Linked DNA regions of Homo sapiens. The protein of the gene in region 1 interacts with the protein of each later gene in a biochemical or structural test. Each region holds a gene or a part of one and is shown in the gene's direction. Other genes may lie near its edges.

Region 1 (7,036 bases):
ACGGAACCCAGTATCCATTGCTGATAGAAGTGTTCAGCAAACTTGGAATAGAAGAGAATGCCCTTTAGCCTCATAAAGGACATCTTTTAAAAACCTACCATTGGCATTAAACTTAAGGGTAAAAAGAATGACAGTTTTTCCTCTTAGATCAGGAAAAATAAAATTTCTCTTCATCCACTTTTATTCAACAATGTACTGAAGGGTCTAGCTAATGTAGTAAGGCAAAAAAAAATTTTTTTTAAGAAAACGAATAAAAGGAATCCAGATTGGAAAGAAGTAAACTTGATTTTATTCACCGACAACATGATTGAATTTTTGTAGCAAAATTGTATATTTACAAAAATACTAGTGGAAGTAAGTGTAATAAGGTTTCAGGATATAAGATTAGTATTCAAGAAACAACTGTGTTTCTTTATGGCTGCAATGAATGATTAAAAAGGGAATTTTAAAACTGCCATTTGCAATAGTATCAAAACCAGGAAATACCGAGGCAGAAATCTGATGAAACAGTGTGCGCTCTGCACTGATAACTACTGCTCTGTTTCTAAGTGTCCCCCAGAGTTCATGTGTTAGAAACTGAAGCCCCAGTAAGAGAGTGTTGAGACATGGGACCTTCAAGAGGCGACGCGAGTGCTCACGGATGGACTCATGTCTTTATTGTGGATGCGAGTTGCTTATAAAAGCCAGTTTGGCCCTCTCCTGCTCTCTTTCTTGCAATGTGATGCCTTCGGCTACGTTATGACACAACAAGAAGGACCCTCACCAGGTGTGGCTTCTTGGTCCTTGACCTGGAGGACTTTCCAGCCTCCAGGAGAACTGTGAGCCAAATGAACTTTTATTTTTTTGAGGCAGTCTCACGCTGTGACTCAGGCTGGGGAGTGCAGTGACACAATCTCGGCTCACTGCAGCCTCCACCTCCTGGGTTCAAGCAATTCTTGTGCCGCTATACTCGGCTGAAGTTTGCATTTTAGATACAGTGTTTTGCCATGTTGGCCAGATGGGTCTTGAACTCCTGGCCTTATGTGATCTGCCCACCTCAGTCTCCCAAAGTGCCAGGATTACAGGCATGAGCTACTGCTCGCAGCCAGCTTCTAATGTTTATATTAATCAATTGCATAGGCAGTGGTATTCTGATAAAGCGTACCGAACGGATGAAGACAACTGCAAACACTGCTGAGAGAAATTTTTAAAGACCTAAATAAATGAAAAGATTTGCTGTTTTCATGGATCAGAAAACTCGGTGTTGTTAAGAAATCAAGAAATAAATTCTCAGCCAGGTGCAGTGGCTCATGTCTGTAATCCCAGCACTTTGGCAAGCCAAAGCAGATGGATCGCTTGAGGCCAGGAGTTTGAGACCAGCCTGGCCAACATGGTGAAACCCCATCTCTACCAGAAATTATAAAAATCAGCCTGGTATGATGGTGCATGCCTGTAATCCCAGCTCCTCAGGAGGCTGAGGTAGGAGAATTGCTTGAACCCGGGAGGCAGAGGTTGCAGTGAGCTGAGATCACGCCACTGCACTCCAGCCTGGGCGACAGAATGAGACTCCCTGTTAAAAAAGAAAAAGAAAGAAAGAAAGAAATTCTCCTTAAAATTCATCTGTATGTACATTCATTCCAATTCTAGTCAGAATTCCAACAGGCTTTCTGTAGAAATTAATAAGCTTATTCTAAAATTAATAGGGAAATGCAGAGGACCTCGATTACCCAAACAGCTTTGACAAAAGAAAAAGAAGACTTATGTGACATAGTTTCAATGCGTATTACAAAATGGCAATAAAATAATCAAGGCAGTCTGATAGTGGCATAAAGGCAGACAAACAGATAATTGCAACAGAGCAGAGCCTTCAGAGATAGACTCACACGTGTACAGACAATTGACTTTCAACAGTGGCTCCAAACAGGAACCAAAATGGCGCTGGCCTTCTAAATGGCAACACTGGAAATGCTGAGGGTTCCAACTTATATATATATAAAATTAGTGAAGAACTATCACTAAAGGGATAAATCAAGAGGAAAACGTAAGATCCAGAAAATAGATTCCAGCACATACAGGGCAGGAGTGAAGGGATGTCATGGACGGTAACTGCAGGAAGCGTAGGCATGAGCTACTGCAGATTAGAGCAGGAGGAGCTGAGAGGGAGGGGGTAGGGGGAAGGAACTGATGTGTTGGAGTTCACAGAGAACATTATTGATAGGTGTGTGGCAGAAATGTTGCAGAAATAATTTACAATCGGACCATAGAAAAACTGCATAGTTTTAAAATGTGGCAATTAGTAACTCCACTAAAAAAGGATTATGCTTGCACAAAAAAGGAGAGGTGGTTTTGTCAACTACTTGTCTTGACAGTGTGTATTATCTGCGGAGTCACAGTAATGCAAATCTGACTTCCTGATGAATGTAGCTGAGTGGAAATGGGGTTTGCTGTGTTTGCTGTCCACATTGCTCAGCATCTGAGATGTAGCCCTTTGTGAGAGAGCTGGTGCCCGAAGGGGGTGTCTCTTCTGCCTGTGCTCTGTTACTCAGGCCTGCCGTTGGTCACTCCATGTGCCTCCTCAGTGTTTGGTTGTGTCCAGCCCTACTCTATGGCAGGACAGTCTGCTTTACTTCATTTACTAGTTTCCTATCAGCCAGTTTTTAGGGGAAATCTTTTCTAGAATAACTTTGATTCTAGTGTGTTTTCTAGAATAACTTTGATCCTAATATGTTTTAGGAAAAATATAAACATAATATGCCGGGCATGCGGTGGCTCACATCTGTAATCTCAGCACTTTGGGAGGCCAAGGCAGGTGGATCAGGAGTTTGAGACCAGCCTGATCAACATGATGAAACCCTGTCTCTACTAAAAATACAAAAATTAGCCGGGCATGGTGGTGGGCACCTGTAATCCCAGCTACTTGGGAGACTGAGGCAGGAGGATGGCTTGAACCCGGGAAGCAGAGGTTGCAGTCAGCTGAGATTGCACCACTGCACTCCAGCCTGGGCAACAAGAGCGAAACTCCATTTAAAAAAACAAAAGACAAAAAATAAAATTATAAGTGCCTTTACTAGTCTTGTTTAAATAGGCTGATTCTTTCTCTTTTTTTCTAATGCCCCCTAGGAAGTAAAAAGAAAGAAAAGGAACGGCCAGAAATTTCTCCTCCATCTGATTTTGAGCACACCATCCATGTTGGCTTTGATGCTGTTACTGGAGAATTCACTGTAAGTTAACCTAGTTCGGGCCCATTTATAACGTTTAAAATAGCACTCAAACATTTTCCTTCATTATTAAATTTGAAATTAACATTTCAGGCCAGGTGCGGTGGCACACGCCTGTAATCCCAGCACTTTGGGAGGCCAAGGCTGGCAGATCATTTGAGGTCAGGAGTTCGAGACCAGTGTGGCCAACATGGTGAAACCCCATCCCTACTAAAAATACAAGAAAATTAGCCAAGCGTGGGGGTGTATGCCTGTAATTCCAACTACTCAGGAGGCTGAGGCAGGGGAATCATTTGAACCTCGGAGATGGAGGTTGCAGTGAACAGAGACTGTGCCATTGCACTCCAGCCTGGGCAAGAAGAGTGAAACTCCGTCTCAAAAAAAGGGAAATTAACATTTCTATCTATACGTTAACTATGAATTCTTACTGCTTTTTGCTTTTTATAAAAGTGTTAGTGGTTGGATATATCGTTTTCCTAGAGAGCAGAGCCTATTAATTATAGTTATGCAAAACAGACTTAGAAAAAATAGACCTAGGCCGGGCGCGGTGGCTCACGCCTGTGTAATCCCAGCACTTTGGGAGGCCGAGGCGGGTGGATCACGAGGTCAGGAGATTGAAACTATCCTGGCTAACATGGTGAAACCCCGTCTCTACTAAAAATACAAAAAATTAGCCAGGCGTGGTGGCGGGCACCTGTAGTCCCAGCCACTCTGGAGGCTGAGGCAGGAGAATGGCCTGAACCCGGGAGGTGGAGCTTGCAGTGAGCCGAGATCTCGCACGACTGCACTCCAGCCTGGGTGACAGAGTGAGACTCTGTCTCAAAAAAAGAAAAAAGAAAAAATAGACCTTTAGAAAATGAGATCTTTTAAAATTTACTCAAACCTACACTCAAAAGATTGGTTTGTTTTGTGTATTTTGTCATTTATCTCTGGAAATTAATTTTATTGCATCAATTTAAACCATAACTAATTTCTGAATATCTTCTTGTTAGGGCATGCCAGAACAGTGGGCTCGATTACTACAGACCTCCAATATCACCAAACTAGAGCAAAAGAAGAATCCTCAGGCTGTGCTGGATGTCCTAAAGTTCTACGACTCCAACACAGTGAAGCAGAAATATCTGAGCTTTACTCCTCCTGGTAAGAGAGTGGCATAAGGCTGGATCAGATGGAGATTTGTGAAGCACTTCTAGATAAAAAGATTACTCCTGGAAAAATGAAAAGCTAAACTATGGTTCTTGTTGATAACGGTTTTTCCCTGGATAGATTCTACCTTTTGTAGACTGATCCAGGGCAGTTCTGAAGCATAATTTGGATCTGTGAATTATAGTAATCTCATAGGTTTGCCAGAAACGGGAGTTGATGGATATTTTGGCTTTTTGTTTATTTGGTTTTTTCTCCTCATTGCTGTGTTTTTGTTTTCATTTTTCACTCTTCACTGCTTTTAAATGACTTCCAGCAATCAAAGGAAAAGACGCTGGTTGATAGACATGTTCATACTAGAAACACATTTATTGTTAGCGGGACAAGAGGAGGTTGAACTAAAAAATGTTTAGGTCCACTCAAAAAATTGAAACTCGCAAGTGTGCAGATAATAGAATATATGTATTTTAATATATAAAACAGATAAATCATATACGAAAGAAGCGTTAGAACTAAAAGGATTTATACCTCAGAAATGGAATATCTGGAATATCATCTACATAGTCACAGTAATGCAAATTTTACTTTCTGGATGAATATAGCTGGATGGAAATGGGGTTTGATGTACTTTGTTTTCCAAGTTGCTCAGTATCTGAGATATACCGTTAACCTATGAGAGAACCAGTGAATTGGTATATAGTGTAAGAGTTGGTGTAGTGGATTTTTAAAAATAGTTTTTGTTCAAATAAAGATCAGAATAAAGTTCATACAACGCAGTTGGTTGATACATCTCTTGAATCTCTTTTGATCTTTAGGCTTCCCCTCCCACACACTGGTTCATGCTGTCTTTTCTTGACGTTTATTTATTACAGAAACAAGATCATTTGTCCTGTTTCCCTCAGTTTAGATTTTGCTCACTACATCCTCAGGATGTCATTTTTCAATATGTTTGTCTGTCTCTGAAGTCATACATGTGGTTTTCAAAAGCAATATGATGGAGCTAAAATCGTACATGTGGTTTTAATTGATTTTACTTACTGTTTGCATCCTCACAGAAACAAAGGCCATGTGCAAGGGAGAAATAGAAATCTTTTTCAAGTGATCTTGACCTTTTTTTGTTGAGTCTAGTACACCGTTAGGAAAAGGTCACACTTGCTCCTAGAACTTTTCTATCAACCAGTAAGTCTGTGTGTAAATTAGTAATTTTTTTGAAAAACCAATGTTTGACCACAAAATGGTAGCTTATTTTCACCTAGTACACATACATACATATATGTGTGTGCGCACGCGCGTGCGTGTGTGTGTTTTGTTTTGTTTTTGAGCTGGAGTTTACTCTGTTGCCCAGGCTGGAGTGCAGTGGCACAATCTCGGCTTGCCAGAACCCCCGCCTCCCGGGTTCAAGCAATTCTCCTGCCTCAGCCTCCTGAGTAGCTGAGATTACAAGCATGCGCCGCCACACCTGGCTAATTTTGTATTTTTAGTAGAGACTGGGTTTCTCCATGTTGGTCAGGCTGGTCTTGAACTCCCAACCTCAGGTGATCTGCCTGTCTCTCGGCCTCCCAAAGTGCTAGGATTACAGGCATGAGCCACCGCGCCCGGCCTGTGCGTATGTAATATGTGATATGTGTGTGTGTGTGTGATATATATATATATATATACACATATATATATATATATACACACACACATATACACACACACACACATATATGTATGTCTCTGGGCATTTTTAAAAGAAAAACAAAACAATGTCAGAATTTTACTTTGCACAATTGTCATTGTCTTAATTGTTGCATTAAGTTCCTCAGTCAGCAGTTTTCTGGAGAAAGTATCTTTATCAATAAATTTGTTTTGTTTTAATAAATACAGATTGATAGGTATACTTTCAAACTAAATTTTGATAGCTTTATTGAGGTATAATTTACATGCAATACAATTCACCCATTTTAAATATATAATTCACTGATTTTTACTAAATTTATAGTTTCATGTAGATTTCAGATTTCTTACCTTGGTCTTATATAAATTCTTATTTGACTACTTGCGTGTTCATTTTTCTCAAGAGTTAATTCAACTTGAAATCAGTTTAAGAACATTTCACTTTCTCTGCTTTTTTTTTTTCCTTTTATCATATAAAAGTGCTGTTTCTTGAATTGCTAATGTTATGTTTTGTTTCATATTCAGAGAAAGATGGCTTTCCTTCTGGAACACCAGCAGTAAGTTAATTATATTATTTCTTGTATCTCTTGTTCTAATTTAGGTTACCCAAGACAAATCTCAGTTTTTATTTTGCTTTCTAAAATAAATTACAGCCATCAGAGGTAAATAACTACTCAATAGGTGTTTTTAGCTAGCCACCTGATTAGTTGAAGAAGCCGTATTAAATAGAAATTCCTTGATGTGATACTTAATGTAACTAAAATTTATAATGACCTTCAGAACAGTTTAGTTAGTTTTGGTAATGTTAACATATACAAACGTGAACACAAAGAACTTGCTAGCATATATTTTCCTCTCCATCCCTCAGTTTTCCTTCTGGTACTATTTTACTGAATATAGACTGTGGAAAGGTGCTGAACAGTTGAACCTTGTCAGTCTTCAGAGTCATCTGAAACTTAAGTTATCGCATAAACACAGTCAGTTTTTGGAAACAGTCGTTTTATTTGCAGTTTCTCAATTGGGAGGAAACAGTCTCC
Region 2 (7,036 bases), on another chromosome or scaffold:
GTGTTTGCTGCTTACTATTATTATTTGAGTGCTTTTAGATTTAACCAGTAATTGATTGATCTTAGGGATCAGGGTTGTTAATCTTTAATGCTGTATTAGTTAGTATGGGTGCTTCTTAGTGCATAAAAGGGAAAGGAGAAGGAAAAAGGAGATATAAAAGGAAGTTGAATAAAGAAGGATAAATATGGCTGGCTGCGGTGGCTCATGCATGTAATCCCAGCACTCTGGGACTTTGGGAGGCCGAGGTGAGTGGATTGCTTGAGTCCAGGAATTCAAGACCAGCCTGGGTAACAGTGAGACCCGTCTCTTAAAAAAACAAAAACCAAACAAAAACCCAGCCGGGCATGGTGGCATGCGTCTGTGGTTCCAGCTACTTGGGAGGCCAAGGTGGGAGGATTGCTTGAGTCTGGGAGGTGGAGGTTGCAGTGAGCTGAGGTTGTGCCACTGCACTCCAGCCTGGGTGACGGGAGTAAAACCCTGTCTAAAAAAAAGAAAAATATACTGCAGATAATTTTGATGAGGAGCGGGAGAGTGTATATTTCATGTGAGTTACTCACACTAATGTAGTTTCATGTTCTTTTGTTTCGTGATTTTTGCATCCAATCAACAACTCACAGTGTGTCAGTCTAGAAGTGCTCAGTGCTAGAAGTATAGTGGTGCATGAGGTAGTATAGGTTCATTTACAGGGATGTTAATAGGCATTTATAAATTGTTATGATTAATTGTTGTGAATGGTGCTATAGGAGCATGGTGGCATCTGACCAAGAGTTAGGTGGTTCTGTATTTTTATGTTTAATTATAACCCCTTTAGGATTATAATTTAAATTAATTTAAATATAAATCTTAAAATTTAGGTACATATTGGGTGGTGTTTCTTTTTATTCTTTCAGAAAACTGTTAAAGTATTTCATTGAATCTAAGATTCCAATTTCATAGAAGTCAAAATGTGGGGGAAAAATGGCTGATAATGATTCTAAGAGACTCAAAGATACATTCTGACTTTAGAGATGTTAACATGAAAAAAAGCATCTCAAATTAATGACTCTTTGGTACTTGTAATTGATAGCTTCTTAAAATGGAGGAGGACTCTAGTAAGAGAAGCTATAGTATCTGTTTATAAGTCAGTATGCTTTAGAGCAATCTGACTTTTTCATTATAAAAATGTAGGTTTTGGACTAGGCATTCTGGTGCTAAAACAGCTGCTGAGGCCAGCGATCACCCTGTTCTTTGTTCAGTTCCTCACGTTACTCATATAATTACCGTGTGATCGTGTGGTGCTCTGCTGCTTGTTGGTCAGAGCCTGAGTAAGGCTGAATAAGGCTGGATCATGAACCATTCTTTAAAGCAGTGGCCTTTGTATTGCAGTCTAGTTGACATACATGCATACATACAGGTGTGTGTGCACGTGTAACTGAAGAACAGCTTTCACAAAATAATATTTAGCACACTGTGGAATTTTCTCTGATACAGCCTCTTCTCTTTCATGATAAAAATAAATTCGCTGATTATCACACCACTTTGGACCTTTTAAAAATAACACTTAAGAAGTTGGAATAGCCAGGGATCAGAAACTTAGAAATGGACCTTATTTGTTATTGTAACTTATAGCAAGTCATTGTGTCTCTTATTGGGTTCTTTTAGCCATAATAATTGTGCTAGTTCTTTTCTTGCTCTGAGTGCCTGAACCTGTTGCTAAGTGAGGAAGAAAAATCCATATGTAAGTATAAATAAACAAATGTCTTTAATCTTTTTGCAGGTCATCATCAGATTTGAAATATTTAAAGTGGATACAAAACTATTTCAGCAATGCAGACAATTAAGTGTGTTGTTGTGGGCGATGGTGCTGTTGGTAAAACATGTCTCCTGATATCCTACACAACAAACAAATTTCCATCGGAATATGTACCGACTGTAAGTATAAAGGCTTCCTTCTGTTAGTAAAATGTTGTAAAATTTGATATCCTTTTGAAAACGCTTTCTCTATGTGTACTGAATTTTTTTCTGTTGTCTGCCTTTGTTTCCTGTTTTTAAAGATCTTGACTTCTCATGGGTAAATTATATACACTTTAAACAGCTGAAAAATCAGTGGAAAGTCAGAAGGGGTGACACAGGGTTTGCAAGAAGTGCTGGGAGGCAAAACTCCAGTAGACAAGATTCTAACGAGTGGTGGTCTCAATTTGGTGAAGTATGCCCTACATCTTGGAATGAGGTGACTTTTTTTTTTTTTTTTTTGATATTTTGGCCAATTATTGATCAGTACTTGGAGGTCTCCTGGGATACCATTTGAGGTCCTGTAACTTGAGAGAAAGTAGTATGTGTCTCCACTTTTCTTGTGGAGCTGTTCGCTTAGCAGTAATGGAGCTCCAAACTGGTTCTTAGGGGCAGAGAAGAGAAGACCTGTTATGTTTCGAGAACACCAACAGAGTCCTTTGGGGGTCACTCCCACAACTGTTCTTTTCTTTTTTTCTTTTTTTTTTTTTTTTTGAGATGGAGTCTCTATCGTCCATTCTATCTGGAGTGCAGTAGCGCGATCTCGGCTTGCTGCACCCTCCGCCTCCCGGGTTCAAGCAGTTCTCCTGCCTCAGCCTCCTGAGTAGCTGGGATTACAGGCGCCCGCCACCACGCCTTTCTAATTTTTGTATTTTTAGTAGAAACGGGGTTTTACCATGTTGGCCAGGCTGGTCTTGAACTCCTGACCTCAAATGATCCACCTGCCTCAGCCTCCCAAAGTGCTGGGATTACAGGCGTGAGCCACCATGCCTGGCCCCATAACTGTTTTTTAAATCAACTCTTTGGAATGGTAGAAGGAAGATGGGAATAACAAAAATATTGAAGTGAGAGAGAGACAAGAGTTAGAGTAACACTCATTTGTGAAAGGTAGTGAGACCCTGTCTCAAAAATAAGGAAAGTTTTTTTTTTGAAGGGGGGAGAATTTGAAGGTATTATTAAACACTAAAATCATATTGATATTTTGAATTGGCTCATTTGGAGACAAGATAAATGGAAGACGTTTTGAGGTTCAGTGGACTTACAGGGGACATTTAGAGGTACATGAATCTTGTTTCAGAGTGAGGACAGCTATCAGAATTTTTCTGTTTCAGTCTCCATTGAAGTTATTTACTTGTAAACATAATTTCTGAGTCTTTTATGACTTTGATCTTCTGGTGTTATATTTTAAGTGGGCTTGTGGGTGTTTTATATGTATGTTTGTGTTGTACATCTCTGGAAAAGTGATAGAGTGGAAGGAAGAGTAGTAGTAGAATAAAATTTTAAATGAACCGATTTAGGTAAATGAATGGACCATGAGGCACAAGTAATGTTCTCATGGTACCTGTTGAAGTTAATATGGAAATGGATTTGGTGTAGAATGCATTTAAGTTCCCATCTATGAGTTGGGGCTTGCCATTTCTAGAGTAATAGAAATTCAGAGCTGGATGGGACAATATATATTGTCTTACCCATCTCTTAATGGATGAGGGTACTCAGGCCCAATTTAGGGATGAGACTTAGAAGTCTAAGTTTAATTACTTAGCGTAATTACACTAGCATAAGTAGACTTTGGAATGGAAGCCAGCTTTTCTGATTCTTAGTCTAGTTTTGGATATGAACAATCTAGTAAAGGAGGGTTGTTTTTGAGTCTCTTAAGTGTGATTTAAGAAAATAATCTGTTTGGTTTGAGAGCTTAACCACATTCATTCAATTTCTTTGTTCCTGTTTTTAAGAACCGACTTTCCTTTAACTGTCATCTCCCTCATGCCCTTGCTTCTCTTCTTTACATTTAAATAAGCTCTGGAACAATCTGTTAAAACATAAGTCAGAAAATCAGAGTAGGTACCTAAAAGTTAAGTAGGGCTGGTCTTAAAATGTGGCATTCTTCTCCTAGTTGGAAAGCTTTGCTTTTCTTTTTATAGATATCATTTAATTTTAAAATTTTTACTGTAAATTGACAGATTATAGTTGTATATGAAAGCATTGCTTTTCAATTGTAAATTAATTCTAAAGACTCCAGAATTTGTGTTGGGTCTTTTCCCATTTAGCATTGTTAAACCTCCCATTTTCACAAATAACTTCGTACAACCGATATTAGCATATGCTTTACTGAATTTGATAAGGGTTTTATGGTCTATTTACATATTAAGCATCTTGTTAAAGAAGATGTCTTAGATCATGCAGTTTGTGCCCAATAACATGAATTTTACTCATAAAATTCCCAGCTGGCTGGGTGCAGTGGCTCACACCTGTAATTCCAGGACTTTGGGAGGCCGAGGCAGGTGGATCATGAGGTCAGGAGTTTGAGACCAGCCTGGCCAACATAGTGAAACTCTGTCTCTACTAAAAATACAAAAATTAGCTGGGTGTGGTGGCATGCACCTGTAGTCCCAGCTACTCAGGAGGCTGAGGTGGGAGAATCGCTTGATCCCAGGAGGCAGAGGTTGCAGTGAGCCGAGACCATGCCATTGCACTCCAGCCTGGATGACGCAGTGAGACTCTGTCTCAAAAAAAAACTTCCCAGCAAATAATCTGCCAGCTTTTTCTTGGACACTTTGAGTACTTTGAGGGAACCGTTATTTCTCTCAAATGGGCTTGTTTATAACAAGGCTCATCTTTTCTAGGACTCTGAAAGGAAGAAAGGTCATGGATCTAGGATATTTTATTTCTAGATGAAAAGGAAATGGTCTATGAAGAAGTAGTTTCTTAGGAATCAGATTGAATGTTGAGGTAGACCACTGTCTGAAAAGTTTCAAACTTGAACAGGTTCATTTTGTGTAGCTAGAGGACTCTGCTCCTGTGACACCTCTAAACCTTCTCTGGCTCTTTATCCAGGCTGCTGGGGTAGAGCAGAAATCTCAGAACACATCCTTTGTCTTTTTCCAGGAATCATTTAGCTCATGCAAGGACTGGTTGGCAAGATTGGTTATATAAGGATGATGGATGGACTAGGGGACGATTAAGTCTTAGCAAGGAAACACTGCCTTAGCTTAAGAGTTGTCCTGTCCCATTTTAACTCTCTCCTTGCACACTAACAGTGTTGTATTTTTTTGTTTTTAGGTTTTTGACAACTATGCAGTCACAGTTATGATTGGTGGAGAACCATATACTCTTGGACTTTTTGATACTGCAGGTGAAAACTTAATGTCTTTTATACTGTTTTGATCTTTAACAGTTGCTAGTTGTCTGTCTCTTGTGGACATTTTGAGAAACTAGCACATGAGCAAAGTACTTGCCTTTTGTTATTAGTTAGCAGGATTGAATATAATGATTGTCGATGCTTGACCAAGGAGCAGTCCCAGACCTGGGTCGGCAAATAGGAGTTTGGAGTACCCTGGGTGAACAGTGTAGTAGATGAAGTAGAGTGAGACTAGAGTGCATCATACAAGCTCCAAATTGAACTAAAATCCTGATGCGTGCACCTTGCAGAGAACTGGGGACTGCATTAGTGGTTGGGGAGGGACTAAGGGAATGAATTCATAGGAATCATGCCCACTGATTCTCTCCCTTCACCCCTACCTGCTCCTTTTTAAAGCCTAGAGTTTCCTAAATATGCCTAAGGTTATAAGGTCATAAGCCATTTACAGTATTTATTATTATTACTCTCTTGATATTTGAAGGCATATTCAATTTATGTGTCTAATAACATGTTTAGTTTCTTACGATAGATAGCTTATTTTAAACTGTATCTGAAAATATTTTGAGAGTGAACTATTATCTGCTCACAGTATTGACATTTGTCAGCTATCCAAATTGTAAGAACAAATTACTTTCTTCCTTAAATGTACCTAATTCCTCAGTGCTATTTCTTGTTTTCAAGAGTGGCTGCACATCTTAATTTCTGACTTTTCTCTATGTGCCGTCTTATTATCAGCTCAGTTAGCCAGAGGAAAATCTCAGAAAGATATCCTTTAGAGTATCTTTAGAATGTAGGAATTCTAAACTTTGTGCTTTGAGTTACTGTTACTGTTTGCAAGTTAACATGTTGCTTCCATGGAATGTGGTGTTACACTGTGTACCACGAGGAACTATTTGGATTTAATTGAGAACGTGAAATGGAGAGACAGTAAAGATTAGAGAAATTTTTAATACATTAAAATCATAAAAGTAATGGTATATTAAATTTGGAATATAGAGAAAACAATGACCCATAATGTCATGATAAATGAGGGGTTTTCTTCTGTGTTCATTTGTGTCCAAAGGCACAGAGAAAATTTTTATTTTTTTTTTTTGTTGAGATGGAGTTTTGCTGTTGTTGCCCAGGCTGGAGTGCAATGGTGCAATCTCGGCTCACCGCAACCTCCGCCTCCCAGGTTCAAGCGATTCTTCTGCCTCAGCCTTCTGAGTAGCTGGGATTACAGGCATGCGCCACCATACCCGGCTAATTTTTTTGTATTTTAGTAGAGGTAGGGTTTCTCCATGTTGGTCAGGCTGGTCTCGAACTTCTGACCTCAGGTGATCCGCCCGCCTTGGCCTCCCAAAGTGCTGGGATTACAGGTGTGAACCACTGCGCCTGGCGAGAAAAGATAATTTATGGCTACTTGTGGTTGAAAATTAGTATTTTCAGATTTCAAAGTTTATTATTTATAAGCCTTTACATTTTCTGGCGAGTACTTTTGAAAGCTTTTTTGATGCGTAGTGCAATAAAAATCATTTTAAGGCCAGGCGCGGTGGCTCACGCCTGTAATTGCAGCACTTTGGGAGGCTGAGACAGGCAGTTCACCTGAGGTCAGGAGTTTGAGACCAGCCTGGCCAGTATGGTGAAACCCCATCTCTACTAAAAATACAAAAATTAGCCCAGTGTAGTGGTGTATGCCTGTTAAGTCCCAGCTACTTGGGAGGCTGAGACAGGAAAATTGCTTGAACCCAGGGGGCGGAGGTTGCAGTGAGCCGAGATTCTGCCACTGCCCTCCAGCCTGGCTGACAGAGTGAGACTCCGTCTTTAAAAAAAAAAAAATCGTTTTAAGTGTTCAGTGTGATGCATTTTGCTGACCCTCCACCATAATAAAATGTGTAACATTTTTATCACCCCTCAAATTTTCTGTGG
Region 3 (7,036 bases), on another chromosome or scaffold:
GGCTAAGGTGGGAGGATCGCTTGAAACCCAGGAGGTGGAGGTTGTAGTGAGCTGAGATTGTGCCATTGCACTCCAGCCCGTGCGACAGAGTGAGACCTTGTCTCAAAAAAGCAAAAACAAAAACTATTAGAGATACGTCTTTGGCCGGGCACGGTAGCTCAAGCCTGTAATCCCAGCACTTTGGGAGGCCGAGGTGGGCGGTTCACCTGAGGTCAGGAGTTTGAGACCAGTCTGGCCAATATGGCGAAACCTCGTCTCTACTAAAAATAGAAAAATTAGCTGGGCACGCCTGTAATCCTAGCTATTCAGGAGGTTGAGGCAGGAGAATCGCTTGAACTTGGGAGGTGGAGGTTGCAGTGAGCCAAGATTGTACCATTGCACTCCAGCTTGGGTGACAGAGGGAAACTGTCTTTTTTTGTTTGTTTGTTTTTAAAGGAGATACATCTTCATCTGTTCCTGCTTTGACCCTTTGCCTGGACCATGGCAGTGTCCTTTCAGGCTGTACGTCCCTCCATCCTGCCCTCCTGTGCCTCTGCTTACACTGGGCTCTTAAGGAAACTCCTGCTCCTTGTCTCATCATCCCTAGGGATGGTTCTGTCTTATCATTTCTAGAATTGGATGCCTTGCCATCTTGTTTGCTCCTTAACTCTGCATACAGGGCTGTGTAAATAATTCCTTCATGAAAATCTCTATTTCAATCTTCTGGGATGAGTTTTTTCCTTCTGGGACCCTGACTGATAGAGACTGATAATACACCCGTATGAAAATATGTCTGCCAGGTGCGGTGGCTCATGCCTGTAATCTCAGCACTTTGGGAGGCCGAGGCAGGCGGATCACCTGAGGTCAGGAGCTCGAGACCAGCCTGGCCAACATGGCAAAACCCTGTCTCTACTAAAAGTACAAAAATTAGCCGGGCGTGGTGGTGGGCGCCTGTAATCCCAGCTACTCAGGATGCTGAGGCAGGAGAATCACTTGAACCCGGAAGGCGGAAGTTGCAGTGAGCTGAGATTGTGTCACTGCACTCCAGCCTGGGCGACAAGAGCAAGGCTCTGTCTTGAAAAAAAAAGAAAAAAAGTCAGAAATAATTTGCAAAGCATGTTAGAAAATTCTAGATTTCCTGAATAGCAATTTAATTGAGATTGGCCAAGAAATATTACATAGGGTTGATACTCTTTTATTCTAAGATAGTCCTTTCTGAGCATGGGGTCTATAATTTTTTTTTCCTCCACCTTACTGCTGCCCCACCTTTTAACTTTCACTTAGTGGACCTTTGCCCCAAGATTTTCTCTCAGCTTTTCCTAGGTAAGACAGCATCACCCGGGCGCGATGGCTCATGCCTGTAATCCCAGAACTTTGGGAGGCCAAGGCAGGCGGATTGCCTGAAGTCAGGAGTTCGAGACCAGTCTGGCCAATATGGTGAAACCCTGTCTCTACTAAAAATACAAAAAAATTAGCCAAGGATGGTGGGGGGCGCCTGTAATCCTAGCTACTCGGGAGGCTGAGGCAGGGGAATTGTTTGAATCAAGGGAGGTGGAAGTTGCAGTGAGCCAATATCGTGCCACTGCACTCCAGCCTGGGTAACAGAGTGAGACTCCGTCTCAAAAAGGAAAAAAAAGACAGCATCTTACATTCAGGTATTTATAAACAACTTTTATTATTTATTTGTTTTTATTTTATATTGGCTCACTGCAGCCTCCACCTCCTGGGTTCAAGTGATTCTCCTGCGTCAGCCTCCCAAGTAGCTGGAACTACACGTGCCTGCTACCATGCCGAGGTAATTTTTTTTTTTTTTTTTTTTTTGAGAAGGAGTTTTCGCCCTTTTTGCAAAGGTTGGAGTGCAGTGGTGCGATCTCGGCTCACTGCAACCTCCTCCTCCTGGGTTCAAGCGATTCTCCTGCCTCAGCTTGTCGAGTAGGTGGGATTACAGTCACGCTCCACCACACTGACTAATTTCGTATTTTTAATAGAGACGAGGTTTCTCCTTGTTAGCCAGGTTGGTCTCAAACGCCTGACCTCAGGTTATCCACCTGCCTTAGCCTCTCAAAAAGTACTGGGATTACAGGCATGAGCCACTACGCCTGGCAATTTTTTGTATTTTTAATAGAGACAGGGTTTCACCATGTTGACCAGGTTGGTTTCGAACTCCTGACCTTAGGCGATCTGCCCGCCTTGGCCTCCCAAAGTGCTGGGATTATGGGCGTGAGCCATCGTCCCTGGCCTAAACAACAGTTTTATTATTTTATTTTTTATTTTTTTATTGCTTATTACTATTTTTTGAGATGGAGTCTCGCTCTGTCACCCAGGCCGGGGTGCAGTGGCATGATATGGGCTCATGGCAACCTCTGCCTCCTGGGTTCAAGCAGTTCTCCTGCTTTGGCCTCCCAAAGTGATGGAATTACAGGCCCGAGCCACTGCGCCCGGCCACAACTATTTTAATAGTGTTGTTTTGGTGTTGGTTGATTAAAGGAATGGGAACGAATGACTTGAAGCCCTCTCTGTTTCACTCTTTATACAAAGTGGAGTCCAGATTGGGCTAGTGGCCTGTCTAGCCCAATGTCTGACTTGGACATACATTACTGTCCAGGAGTTTCTTAGCTGAATGTGAAAAATGCCTTCCGTGACATCATCCTTACAGGAACATTCTTTACATTTATTCTTTACTTCTGTTGAACGGTGGTGGCGTGAACCATGAATTTGTTTAAGCTTTTCAGCTGTTTTGTGTGTTTTCCTCTCAAGGCATGGGGTTTCATATTTTTGACCTGTGGTAAAGGTATTTGAATTCTGCACTGGCCTCCAAATGTAGGTGTAGTATATGGCTCTGATCTTTGTTGATGATTTTATACATAATGTGGTTTTTTTTCTTGATAAGCCAAAAAAATTATACATAATGTGTGTGTGTGTGTGTGTTTTAATTTCAAATGATAGTTACAGTAAAAGTTTGGAGTTGGGCTAAGTGGGAGGAGCATCAGGAAGCCATTTTTAGAAACCTTAAATTCACCCTTTATAACTTTCTGTCTTTTTGCATTAGTCATCTGATACCTTAGTACTGCCTACTTTTTCACATCTCCATCACTACGTAGCTCTTAAAATTGTAGTCTTCCTTGAAAGGAGATGTTTTTGTCAAGAGTCTTTGCCACCAAGGCAGGATTGCATGTGATCAGTAGGAATATTTTCCTGCAATGTCTTAATATGAAAAATTTCAAACAGACTAGTGGAAAGCATTGTACAGTCAACATGCACATACCCATGGCCTGGATTCTATGACAGTATTTTGCTCTACTTGTTCATTTTGCTGTATTTGCTTTATCATGTCTTCCTGTTATCAGAGGGAACCTTTTAAGAGGATTTATAGAGGAGTTGATTTTGTTTTTTGTTTTGTTTTGTTTTGCTCTTTTTGAGGTGGAGTCTTGCTCTGTTGCCCAGGCTGGAGTGCAATGGCATGATCTCTGCTCACTGCAATCTCCGCATCCCAGGTTCAGGCGATTCTCCTGCCTCAGCCTCCTGAGTAGCTGGGCTTACAGGCACCCACCACCATGCCTGGCTAATTTTTGTATTCTTAGTTGAGACAGGTTTCACCATCTTGGCCAGGCTGGTCTGGAACTCCTGACCTCAGGTGATCCACCTGCCTCGGCCTCCCAAAGTGATGGGATTACAGGCGTCAGCCACCATGCCCGGCCTGATTTTGAAAAAGAATAGGGACTGTGTGCAGTTACATATAAATTCTTATTTTTGAACTCTTGTGTGTTCAGCTGGCTTGTATCAACTACACCAGGGTTAGCCTTGATTCTGGAAGGGTGGATTCAGACTTCAGCTCAGTTGTACATAGTGTCTTCAGCCTAAGTGAGAAACTTTATGCACTATCTTAATTTTTTGAAGCTTCTAGTGGTAATAATTGCTGGCTTTTTTTTTTTTTTTTTGGTAGAAACAGAGTCTTGCTCTGTCGCCAGGCTGGAGTGCAGTGGCACGAAATCAGCTCACTGCAACCTCTGCCTCCCAGGTTCAAGCAATTCTCCTGCCTCAGCCTCCTGAGTAGCTGAGATTACAGGCGTGTGCCACCACACCCAGCTAATTTCTTTTGTATTTTAGTAGAGACGGGGTTTCACTGTGCTGCCCAGGCTGGTCTTGAACTCCTAAGGTCAGACAGTCCGCCCACCTTGCCCTCCTAAAGTGCTAGGATTACAGGCATGAGCCACCGTGCCTGGCTTATGGCTAGCTTTCTTTACATTGATTGTGAAGTCAGATATTGGTAGTAGAACATCATAATTTTAGATTGGGTTTTGTGTTTATTTAGCACTGCACTACTCTAGTGGTGTATTTTTCTGGACAGATTTTATCTGCATAGTTAACGCAGTTATATATAAGGCCTACCGTTACAGAATCCCCATACCTTGTTTGTCAGTGTAAATCGAGGACCTTCATGCGAGGTCTTTAATTTATTCAATAAGTAGGAATATATATTTGACAGTTACTAAATTCTACTGCCTTGTCCTTAAGATCTACATACTTTTTTTTGTTTTTTGAGTCAGAGAGTCTCGCTCTGTTGCTCAGGCTGGAGTGCAGTGATGCGATCTCAGCTCACTGCAACCTCTACCCCGTGGCCTCAAGCGATACTTCTGCCTCAGCCTCCTGAGTAGCTGGGATTACAGGCGCCTGCCACCACACTCAGCTAATTTTTTGTATTTTTAATAGAGATGCAGTTTCGCTGTGTTGGTCAGTCTGGTCTCGAACTCCTGGCCTGAAGTGATCCACCCGCCTTGGCCTCTTGCTGGGATTACAGGGAAGAGCCACTGCGCCTGGCCAAGATCTACTCACTTTTAGACAGCAATATATGCTCTGTATTTTGGTTTGCAATTGTAATTGTCATTGGAAGAGTTTGGCTTTTCTGTCCTGAGATCAACGTGTCTTTAAAAGAAGGCAGTGCAGAAAGTTGTTATTTTTTGAGCTTCTTGGATCTTTTATTTTTTTAACGTGAGGAAATTCCTAGCGTTTCTAGATTTGTTGATTGTGCTTTTAAGTTTTGGTTTATAGATTTCAGGAAGTAACACTAAAGTTTACCCTACTCTCCTCAAAAAGTAAGTAAAAAGTTCTCTTGGCTGGGCGTGGTGGCTCACGCCTGTAACCCCAGCACTTTGGGAGGCCGATGGGGTGGATCTCCTGAGGTCAGGAATTCGAGACCAGTCTGGCCAACATGGCAAAACCCTGTCTCTACTGAAAATACAACAACAAAAAAAAATTAGCTGGATGTGGTGGTGCTTACGTGTAGTCCCAGCTACTTGGGAGGCTGAGGCAGGAGAATTGTTCGAACCCAGCAGGCAGAGGTTGTGGTAAGCCAGGATTGCACCATTGGGCTCCAGCCTGGAAGACAGAGCCAAGACTCCGTCTTAAAGTTCTCTTAATGGAAAAATGAAGAACATAATAGCAACATAAGTTATTTGCTTTCATTGTGGTTATTTCTACAGGACAGGGCAGGGGAAGCACAGATAGGTTAAAAAAAATTGTAGCATCATGAGCTAGGGGGAAATCCAATGTAGAAATGGCATGAACTTTCTTCCAGCCGACTCATGTTCGTTTCCTAGAGTGATGACATTGCTCGATGATTGAAAAGAGGTTGAACTGAGCAGTTAATTATATAAAGTTAGAAATTCCAAAGAAGTAGTAACTACCAGAAATTCTCCAGCAGTATCAGTCAAGACTTGTGGCCAAATACGGCTTCCATTCTTCATGAGGGAAAGGCCATGGAAAGGCTGTCACATTGCCCAGTGCAGATGTTGACTTGGTTTGTGGAAGCGCAGCGTGGACAAGGAATGAATATACACTAATAGGAGTGGAATAACCTTTTTCTTTTACCTATTTGAATAAATTAAGTAAAAGTTTTAATCAGAAGACTTAAAGAGGAGTCGATTTTATCTTTTGATTGCACTAAGCTTAAATATAAGGTTGCACTTTAAGAATTCTGTAGTTTAATAATCATATTCTTATAAGACATAGATTTGTAACAAATAGTGATTGGTAATAAAATTTCAGTCAGTATCAGATTATGCCAGTACCTTGAATTTCTTCCCGGTTGAGCCTTTCTCAGCTAAAGATGTCATTCAGGAAAGGAAGTTTAGAGGATTTTAGACACAGCTGGTTGCCTTTATATTAGTAGTTTTGTTCCTCATATACATAGAGACTTAGGACAGAATAGTAAAAGAAGTGATAATGACATTTTATCATAACAGTCAAAACCTTCATAGCAGCTTATCCTTGACACTGAGTGGCAACTATTGTTAAGGTTTTTACACAACCTTTATCTTTTTTTTTTTTTTTTTTTTTTTTTTTTTTTTTTTGAGACGGAGTTTTGCTCTTGTTGCCCAGGCTGGAGTGCAATGGCGCAATCTCGGCTCACTGCAACTTCCGCCTCCCGGGTTCAAGCGACTCTCCTGCTTCAGCCTCCCGAGTAGCTGGGATTACAGGCATGCACGCCCGGCTAATTTTGTATTTTTAGTAGAGAGGGGTTTCTCCATGTTGGTCAGGCTCTTCTCGAATTCCTGACCTCAGGTGATCCGCCCGCCTTGGCCTCCCAAAGTGCTGGGATTACATGTGTGAGCCACCGAGCCCAGCCAACCTTTATCATTTTTAAAAAGGTCCCTTAGAGCCTTAGGCTCCACTTTCTTCCTCAGCTGCCACATCCAAACCATGGGTAAGCGATGCTTGATCTGCCTCCAAGTTCAAGCAGTCCAGGAAACAGCCCACTTATGTTCACTGTCCAGTCCCCATTCTTGGTCCAGGCCACCATGGATGGCTCCTGGACTGTAGCAACAGCTTCCATGTGTGTCTGCCTTGACTGAGTCCCTGGCGTCCTCAGGCTTCCTGCCACACTGCAGTTGGAGGCTTCTTCTAAAATCCAGTGCTTTCTGGGCAATTTAAAACCTGTGACTTTCCAAGTAGGATCTAGTCCCCATGTCCTTAACAAGAAGAGGTAACGTATTTCCCTATGCCACTGCCCACTTATTTTTTTATTGTTGAGATGGGATCGTGCTTTGTCACCTAGGCT

Evidence for each region. The genes of interacting proteins can lie anywhere in the genome.
Region 2: the proteins of PAK2 (region 1) and CDC42 form a complex in vitro, tested with the Homo sapiens proteins (4 studies listed by BioGRID, with this or other methods).
Region 3: the proteins of PAK2 (region 1) and RAC1 form a complex in vitro, tested with the Homo sapiens proteins (2 studies listed by BioGRID and IntAct).

The regions. Positions count from the first base shown.
Region 1 is NC_000003.12:196,798,828-196,805,863, forward strand, and holds part of PAK2 (serine/threonine-protein kinase PAK 2), read left to right. Parts: intron 1-3,099; coding exon 3,100-3,200; intron 3,201-4,189; coding exon 4,190-4,337; intron 4,338-6,524; coding exon 6,525-6,556; intron 6,557-7,036. UniProt on the Homo sapiens protein: Serine/threonine protein kinase that plays a role in a variety of different signaling pathways including cytoskeleton regulation, cell motility, cell cycle progression, apoptosis or proliferation.
Region 2 is NC_000001.11:22,076,673-22,083,708, forward strand, and holds part of CDC42 (cell division control protein 42 homolog isoform 1 precursor), read left to right. Parts: intron 1-1,756; 5' UTR 1,757-1,806; coding exon 1,807-1,911; intron 1,912-5,049; coding exon 5,050-5,122; intron 5,123-7,036. UniProt on the Homo sapiens protein: Plasma membrane-associated small GTPase which cycles between an active GTP-bound and an inactive GDP-bound state. In active state binds to a variety of effector proteins to regulate cellular responses. Involved in epithelial cell polarization processes.
Region 3 is NC_000007.14:6,377,491-6,384,526, forward strand, and holds part of RAC1 (ras-related C3 botulinum toxin substrate 1), read left to right. Parts: intron 1-7,036. UniProt on the Homo sapiens protein: Plasma membrane-associated small GTPase which cycles between active GTP-bound and inactive GDP-bound states.